Linked DNA regions of Homo sapiens: region 2 is linked to region 1. Evidence: fine-mapped expression QTL. A gene starts in region 1. The other region holds a variant in brackets. All regions are shown on one strand. Distances are from middle to middle. Region 1 holds the start of TCERG1L (transcription elongation regulator 1 like). Region 2 overlaps TCERG1L (transcription elongation regulator 1 like).

The links. PIP is the estimated chance that this variant, and not a neighbour inherited with it, causes the effect.
Region 2: its variant is fine-mapped to the expression of TCERG1L in thyroid (GTEx, PIP above 0.99).

Annotation. Positions count from the first base shown.
Region 1 is chr10:131,309,853-131,314,238 of GRCh38, reverse strand. TCERG1L (transcription elongation regulator 1 like) reads left to right here and starts at 2,518. Exons shown (of 12, transcript NM_174937.4): 1 at 2,518-2,945. The coding sequence starts at 2,604. It overlaps LOC101927461 (a long non-coding RNA gene), which reads right to left and starts at 2,383. Exons shown (of 3, transcript XR_242763.6): 1 at 1,965-2,383; 2 at 1-105.
Region 2 is chr10:131,200,405-131,204,790 of GRCh38, reverse strand. All of the region lies in intron 4 of TCERG1L (transcription elongation regulator 1 like), which reads left to right. LOC105378563 (a long non-coding RNA gene) reads left to right here. Exons shown (of 5, transcript XR_946484.1): 4 at 1-272; 5 at 537-2,238. Among named protein-coding and RNA genes, the nearest start is that of TCERG1L-AS1, 110 kb to the right of the region's middle. The variant C/G (reference allele first, on the strand shown) is at 1,744.

The DNA.
Region 1 (4,386 bases):
TTGTGTGACAGCTGTCTTCTTTGCATCTTCTTTGCCTTCGCTCTTTCAACCATCCTCAAGATGTACAAATGACATTTGCAGAACCGGTTCATGGAGGCGGTCCTTCTAAACAATCATTGAAATGAGTGTATCTATGAGGGGGCTTCTCCTATCCATGAGGGTGTAGAAGGTTCCCGGGTTAAACGGGATGAGAGGCAAACCTTGAAAAGAATCTGACAGAAATGAGAGCCAGGAGGAGGGGGAGAAGCCCTGTGCTGGGTCCTTGGCCCTAGCAACGATTAGTGGAAATGGCCGTGCCTGCGTCGTTGAGGGCTGTTTTCCCATAATTTAGCACACAGAATGGTACAGAAAAGGGCTCCCAAGCATTGTCATACAAAAGGAGAGTCAAGCTTGTGGCAGGAAATAGCAAGAGTTTAGGCCGCTTTGTGGTTGAGTCAAGAGCTGCTTTCGACTTTCCAGCTCTTCTTCAGAGCCAAGTAGTGGCTCAAGGGGTCCTGAGCTCAGAGCATCAGGAAGCCCGGAGGGGTGCTGGCAAAAACGGACTTCAGCAGAACCCTTTCTAGGACAGTGGGGATGGGGCTGGGATTCCCCAAAGGAGTGCTACAGCTCCCACAGACTGTGGCCAACCCTACCTTCCCAGGAACCTGGGGGCCACACACGCAAAACCCTGCTTTTGCAGAGAACAGCATGCAAGCCAGGCACGAGCACCCCTGGCCTTCTGTCTCTGCCTCCAAGCAGAAGGAAGGAGAATCTCCTGTGCAAAAGGGACTATGCGGTGGGGGAGGTGGGGGGTGGCAGGGGCATGTGAGCCTGCCTGGAGACGCCTCCCCAATATCCTGATCTGGCTCTGACCATTAAACTAACACATTTATAACACATGTGCACATACTAATATATGCACATAAATTAAGGGTGTAAGTGAATAGTAACAGCCTTCTAATGTGCAGAGCTTTCTGATTTTAGGTGAATAAAAAAAATGCCAGTACTTTTGCATCAAAGAGAGAGATAAACTTGCTAATTGAAAACTGGTTTTCGTGGAGGAAAATATGGAGGCGCCAGCTATGTAAATCAGCATATGCCCAGATCTAAAAGAAATCAGGCCAGGCCAAGAGGAAATTAAGCAAATCAGGATAATGAGGAAACAACCCTAGACGCAAATTAAAAGCACTCGGGTGCTTTAGGCCATCTCAGGAGGTTGGCAGTGGACAGGTGGGAGGTGATGCGAACACGGGTTTGGAGTACCAGGCGTGTCAGTGCCGCTGGGTGGGTGGGTGCCTGCTCTCCCACCCAGGTCAGGGAGGGTTTTTCATGCAAGTTCTTAAATGCATGGATCATAATGCTGCCTTTTGCATCCAGAAAGACCCTTCAAATGCCTCTAACAACACTGGTCTCGCGCTGGCATTAGCTGTGCTTGGGTTTCCTGGGTTTAGCGACCTAAGGGGTTTACAGCGCACGGAAGTCTCTGCCCAGCTGTCAGCGCGCGTCGCCAGGGGCTGCACTGAAGCTGTGGACCCGGGATGGGGAGGAGGCTGGCGGCCTCCGAAGCAGGGTCTACAGCGGGGGAGGGCTAGCGCCGTCTGGCGGTGGCTGCGCGTGGCCAGTGCGGACCCAGGCTCGGCTCGGCCGGCGCTGCCTGCGTGTGGTCCGGGCGGAGCGAGGGTCCTTGGAGCCCGGTTCGTCCTGGGTCCCAGGAAGCTCGGCGTGCAGCGTCAGAGGCCGCGTGTGCTGGGGGAGGGAGGAGTACAGACTGTGCCTGGGGGCATCCAGGACGAATTCACAGAGGGGTGGTCCTGCCCCACCCAGGGGGTGTCGTGGGCAAAGGCCCTGGGGCCACCTGCCTGGTGCCTTGGAGGGCGTAGGGCAGGAGCCGCCGAGGCCCGCGGGCCACTGTGGGGCGCGGAACTTCAGACCAGGCACCCGCGGCTCAACTTCCGGGCCAGGGGACCCGCGGGGGCCTTACGAACCTGTTTGGCCCATTTGTGCAACAGAAATCCGCCCGCGCCTAGCAGCGTCCGGGGCCGCCTGCGCCGGATCCGCAGCCCAGTACCCTCCGCGCCCTGGACTCCGAGGAGGCCAGGTAGAGAGCGGCTCGCGCGGTCCCCGTCTGCGCCCTCAGCCCCGCGCTGGGCAGCGGGACATGCCTGGCTCCGGCGCCGCCACCTCGGCTTCCGCTTGCCCTTGAGTGCGGAGCCCGGAGCCTCCCTCGCGGTGCGCTGGGTCCCAGAGGGCCAGAGGCCACCAGGGGGCCGGCATCGGCGGGAGCCCAGCCGGGCGCGCCCTCGGCCCTCTCCCACCCACGTCCTCCGCGGCCGCCCGGGTCCAGGGGCGCAGCGGGGAGGAGACCCCGGCCAGGGCCGGGGAGCGCGAGGGCGGGGCGGGGTCCGGCGGGGAGGGGCGCGGGCGGGCGGGGACCGGGGCGGGGGCCGGGTCCGGGGGCGGCGGCGGCGCGGGCGGGAGGAGGAGGAGCTTCCCGCGCGGGGCAGGGGCGGAGCGAGCGGCCGCGCCGCGGAGCCAAGTGAGTTCGCTCCGGAGCCGCGCCGCCGCCGGCCCAGCATCTCGGGCGCCCGCCGCCCCCGCCGCCGCCGTCAGCGCGGGGATGTAGGATGCAGGCGGGCGCCAGGTTCCAGCGGCGGCGGCGGCAGCTGCAGCAGCAGCAGCCCCGGCGGCGGCAGCCTCTCCTCTGGCCGATGGACGCAGAGCCGCCGCCGCCGCCGCCCTGGGTCTGGATGGTGCCGGGCTCGGCCGGGCTGCTCCGGCTCAGCGCGGGGGTCGTGGTTCCCCCGGTGCTGCTCGCCTCGGCCCCGCCGCCCGCGGCCCCGCTGCTCCCCGGTCTCCCCGGCTGGCCGGCCCCGAGCGAGCCGGTGCTCCCGCTGCTGCCGCTGCCCTCTGCGCCAGACTCCGCCGCCGCCGCCGCCGCGCACCCCTTCCCCGCGCTCCACGGGCAGGTAACGTGTCCCCGTCCCGCCTCGGCCCGGGTCGCCGTCTCCCCTGCTCCTGGGCGCGCCCTGCCCGGCCCGGCTCTGGCCTCCGGCTCGCGCGCCCTCCTCCCCGGCGGTCCTCGCCGCCCCAAACCCTCAGGACGGAGCCCGGCAGCCGTGCCTCGGCGAGAAAGTTCGTGCTTGGACGCCCGGTCGTCCACCTCCGCAGCTTTGGCAGGTGCCTCCGGGTGTCTGGACGGAGCCGTGGAGGGACCCGCCGCCCAGGCCCGCGTGGGGACCGCAGGGAACTCGCGCCACGCCGGGGGTCACTGTCCATCGCGAGGTGCTGAAGTGGCTCCGTGACCGCCGCGGGCCGTGGCTGACATCGCGGAGAAGTTAGGACTTTCACAGTCTCTGCCAGACTTGAAAGCAAGCTGGAAATCGATAGCTGTTTCAGCTGTTTCAGATTCTAATCTGGTTTGGGTTTTTCCCCCTTTCATTTGAAAATAGACTCAGGGCAATGCTTAAGAGAATTCCAACCGACGGAAGTGGCCGGGAAATCCTGCCTTCGGTACTGAGGGATGTTACCGGAGATTCCCCTGCCCCAGGCCTGCCGGAGTCCACCACATTCGCTAATGCCACACTGCACTTTAGAACTAGAGTTTGGCTTTTAAGACATGGGATTAAAAAGAAAAAGTGACTGAACCTTTGATAAATGGTGCAGCAGAGCTAGGCGGGCTGGTTTGGGCAAGATTCATTGTCAGCTAACTATGCAGATGCATTTAAATCAGGGAATAGCGTGCATTTTATTCCAAGGATTGACCTCATTAGCATATTCAAACGGGTGTTATGTTAGAATACACCATTTGATTAATTTAATTCCAATATTATCTTGTGAGCTTTTCTAAAAGATGTTGTTAAACTCCTGCTAAATTGGTCTTTAGACTTAATGATACATCACATATGCAGCACTGGATATTGTATTTTTATGTGTGATGCAGTTTATTTTGGATTTTATTCAAGAAACGTTGGTAGTTTTTGCCGTATTTTGGAGGGGTGTTATATCAGAGTGCTGCCACTAGAGGTATATAATGTCAAGGAACTACATTTTTTAAATTCTGCTTTAAAAAACTGCATTTTTTCACTTATATAAATTTAAAAGAAAATTTAAAAAACCTTAGCATTAATCTTTTAAATATTTTTGTGCTACCCAGCTTCTGTAAAGTAAGAATATGTACAACCAGAAGAACATTTTCATGTAACAGGAACATCACAAATGCTTTTACGATTTTAAAACAATAGGTACTGAAACGTTCCATGTCATTGAGCAATGCATTTTATTAGTGCCTTATGAGGTCTCAGTTATTTTAATTAGAGAGACGGTGCCCTGAATTACCAGCCCCTTTCCATGACTGATGTTTTATTCTGTGTATTGAGATCTTCAACTTAGAAGATGCTTAGTTTTTTT
Region 2 (4,386 bases), 110 kb after region 1:
GCCAGGCTGTGAAGGGGCTGAGGGACAAGTCCACTGCCATCGGGGCCTCTCCCTGAAGGGAGTCTTCTGCCCCAAGAAACATTCTTCCCTTACCCGCAGGCTCATTGGTTTATTTTAGCCTCTAGTGGAAGGACACTGGACAGATGTCCTTTGATTTGAGGACACACACCTTTGGATCTGAGCTGGCTCCGTGCCCCACTGGAGCCCACACAGTGACTGTGGCCACCGCTGCTGGGAAGCCAGGACCCACCATCACGGACAGTTTCTCCACTGTACATGGGAAATGGCTTTGACAGGTGCTTTCTGGCATTTGGGGTGGATGGACTCATCCTCATCCCCATTTTCAAGCTGTGCATATGGAGGCCATGTAGATGCGGGGGCAGGGTGGGGGGGCAGGTGCCAGTTTCCTGAGCCTGCTTGTGGTGGGGCCATCGGGCCAGCCCACTTGCTGGTTTGTGACCTGTCTCAGTCTGTTCCCGCTCCTCTATACTCTTAGACTAGACAATTTATAGAGATGAGAAATGCTTTTCTTACAGGTCTGGAGAATGGAAAGTCCAGGACCAAGGCATCAGCAGATCTGGTGCCTGATGAGAGCTGCCAAGACCCTAGCTAGGCCCAGGCCCAGTGCTAAGCCACCAGGCTTCCAAGATGGCGCCTCCTTGCTGTGTCCTCCCATGGCAGGAGGGAGCAAGGGCTAAGAGGGCCTAGCTGGTTCCCTTCGGGCCTTCCATGAGGTCGCTCATTCCATCCATGAGGGCTCTGCTCTCATCACTTCACATCTCCTAAAGGTTTCACCTCTTCATATCGTCCTATTGGGGCTTAGCTTCCTACTTTGGGGTTTTGTGGGGACTCACGTATTCATGCCCTAGTGTGACCTAATGTGACATCACGCCTCTCCCCTCCCAGCTGGGTTGCGGTGGAGACAGCCAGCTGTCCCCTTAAGATGCCCACCCCCCACTTGGAGGAGGTCTGAAGTGGAAAGTGGCTAGGGAGGCTGCCATCACATTTCCCAGGCTGCCCCCAGGGCTAGCGCTCGCCGGCGGGATGTGAGCAGAAGCAGCAGTTAGGAGAGTGCCTTCCCCACCTCCCGGCCCCTACTGGCCTCTGGATTCCAACCTCTCTGAAACTCGGTATGGCAGGGCCACAAACCAGAAGCAGATGTGTCCCTGAATCGTTTGCGGTGACCCACATTCATCCTCATGGGAGAGACGCACCATCTTCGAATGTGAACGGTTGACATGACGGGGGCGTTTTCCCATGAGGCTGAGAAGTCCTGTGCATGCATTCCCTTAAAATAGAGACGTGAGCACCTGTGATTGGGGCCAGCTTGGATGTTCTACCAGAGGCAGTTTGCTGTCTGGTCAAAGAGGTCTTAGGGTGCTTTTTTGTCATCAGCCTCATTAAACAGTGAGCTGATCTTAAGTGACGAGACCATGAAGGTCACCACTGTGACATACTGGAAGTCTTTTTTTTTTTGAGACGGAGTCTCACTCTGTCACCCATGCGAGAGTGCAGTGGGACGTACTGGAAGTCTTAAGTGAGGTCATCTACCACCCAGCTGTGCTCTGTAACCCAGAGAGCGCAGCTCGGAGGGCTGAAGACAGGTATACGCATATCCATGAACACTGTCACTACTCCTGAGAAGGCGTCACTGCTGTCATTGAAAAGCTTTGAGGGCTGTTGTCTATGGTTCTTGAATTTGTAAGTGGAATTCCTGGCAGCTGTGTGATAAATCAAGCACAT[C/G]GGTGTCGGCGTGACCTTTGACTTCTGTCCCCACAATCTGTGAACCAGAATAAACCTCTTCACTCAAACTTCCACTTAGGATGGCACCTGGTTAATATGAATCATGAAGCAATCAAAACTGAGGTGTACGTTTCCACAGACGGCAGACTTAATTATTTAAGTGTTTCTTTTTTCTAAATAAACTGTAAAAAATGAACATATTTTATTTTAAAAATGGAAACAATTTAGAAGCTTATAGAATCAAGCTCCTCCCAACCCTATTCTTCTCATATTGGAAACTTCTATTGATAATCAGATAATCAGAATATTTCCAGTGTATTCCATGCAAGCCTATGGATTCCTGAAAATGTGGAGAGGATGTTATTGACTTGAATTCCGCTACGTTACTGTTTTACTTAGCAGTGTACCTTAAAGACCAAAATGTAGTGAACTTGAAAAAATCTGTTTTTTATTTTTATTTTTTTTTGGAGATGGAGTCTTGCTCTGTCACCCAGGCTGGAGTGCAGTGGCATGATCTTGTCTTACTGCAACCTCCGCCTCCCAGGTTCAAGGGATTCTCCTGCCTCAGTCTCCCTGTATCTGGGATTACAGGCACTCGCCACCACGCCTGGCTCATTTTTGTATTTTTAGTGGTAATGGGGTTTCACCATGTTGCGCAGACTGGTCTCGGACTCCTGACCTCAGGTGATCCGCCCTCCTCGGCCTCCCAAAGTGTTGGGATTACAGGCATGAACCACCGCGCCCGGCGAAAAAGTTCCGGCCTTACCAGCTTTTGTGGTACCCCACGGTGCAGACATGCGCATACCTACTTGCTTTGGGGGCATCAGTCTGTTTCTAACGTGGGCTGTTACAATCAGTTGAGCGTGTACGTTCTCTGTGCTCCTTCATGTGGTCGGGAGGCTCACGTGCAGCTGGTGATCATGCAGTTTGGTACAACGCTTCTGGAAAGAAATGGATTAATATAAATCGAGACTCTTAATTAGTTTGTCTGTTTAACCCAGCAGTTCTGTCCATGGGACCTTTCCTAAGGAGCAGTCATCGGAAACGCATTACAGGATCTGGAGAGAACCAGCCCCCGTGACCCCCACGTGGCCCTGGGACTTGTTAGAGCTTTCTAGCATCTTTCATTGGCTCTTTCCTCGTCTCTGAGGAAGGTCGATGGATGCGCCTTCAGCACAGCGTGGTGGTGGACGTGGGGTAAAAGAGCAGCCATGTTTAGCAAAGCCGGCAGCTCTGAAAAACTCACTCACAGCTGAGCATTTAGAAGGTCATTACAGTCCCGCAGAGAAGGACGCATGAGGACATCCCACAGAATGCAGTGTAAAATTCGGAGATTAAATATAAAAAAGAAGTCCAAATGCCCAACAGCAGCAGCAGAGCAAATTGCAGTCCATGTTTTGTAGAAATATTTGGCAGCCATTGATTTATTTTATTTTTATATATTTTTTTATTTGCAGCCATTTAAATCATGCTTATTAAGAGCTTCTAAGATTGTGGCGTTTGTTAAAATAGTAAGTAAAGCAACAATTCTACATTGGCAGTGACGGGTCCATAATGAATGAATGAAACTGAAGTACTGGGACCCTCCTTTTTGGCGCCTTACGAGACCCCGGGGAACTCTTGGCGCTGTGCTCCCACGATCACGTGTCTGTGTAAAATCTGCGGATGTTCGATGGCCTCAGGAAGGCTGCTGTCTGTTCCCAGCGTGACCCTCTCTGTCGCTGTCCCTGCCTTGTGGGTGGTGGTGGAGTGTTTGTAGGTGTGGCAGGACCCAGCTGGGGGAAGGGAGGTGCTTCATTTAGTTTGAGTTTAGTGGGATGTGTTTTGGGGGCTCACTTTCCAGGGAGGCAAAGCCAGCTATGCGGGTGGTGGGCCTGACTCTCAGGAATTCTTTCACCTCTTGTGATGGTTCCAATGTGTCCCCTCCACGTTTCATGTGTTGAAACTTAGTTGCCAGTGTGATGGTGTCAAGAGGCACGGCCTTTAACAGGTCATGAGACCACAAAAGCTGCCCTCCACGTCCAAGATGGCGCCGTGATTCTGTATCCGCCCGAGGGGAGGGAGGCTGTGTCCTCACAGCACTGGCAGGAGGGGGAAAGGCAAGTGGGAGATAACCGTGCGAGAAGCCTCTTTTATAAGGGCCTCCATCCCCTTTGCCAGGGAGGATCCCTTGTGATCTAAGCGACTCCTAAAGGCCCCACCTCTTAATGTGTTCACATGACCATTAAGTTTTAACTTCTAAATTTTAGAGGGGACATATTCAATTATATTATTCTACTCTGACCCTCAAAACTTGAGTCCTTCCCACACGCAAAATACATTCATTCCATTTCAGTAATTCCAAACGTTTTAACTTGTTCTAGCATCAACTCAAAAGCGCAGAGTCTTTTAAACATCATATGAGTGAGACCCAAAGTGTGATTTATTCCGAGGAAAATTTCCCTCCAGCTGTGAGCCTGCGAAATCAAGCAAGTCATCCGATTCCAAAATACAATGGTGGAACACACATAGGATAAACATCCTGATTCCAAAAAGGAGACATAGGCAAGAAGGAAAGAGTAGCTGATCCAAAGTAATTTCAATACCCAACAATGCAAATGGCATTACATCTCGAGGTTTGAGAATCACCTTCTTTGACTCCAT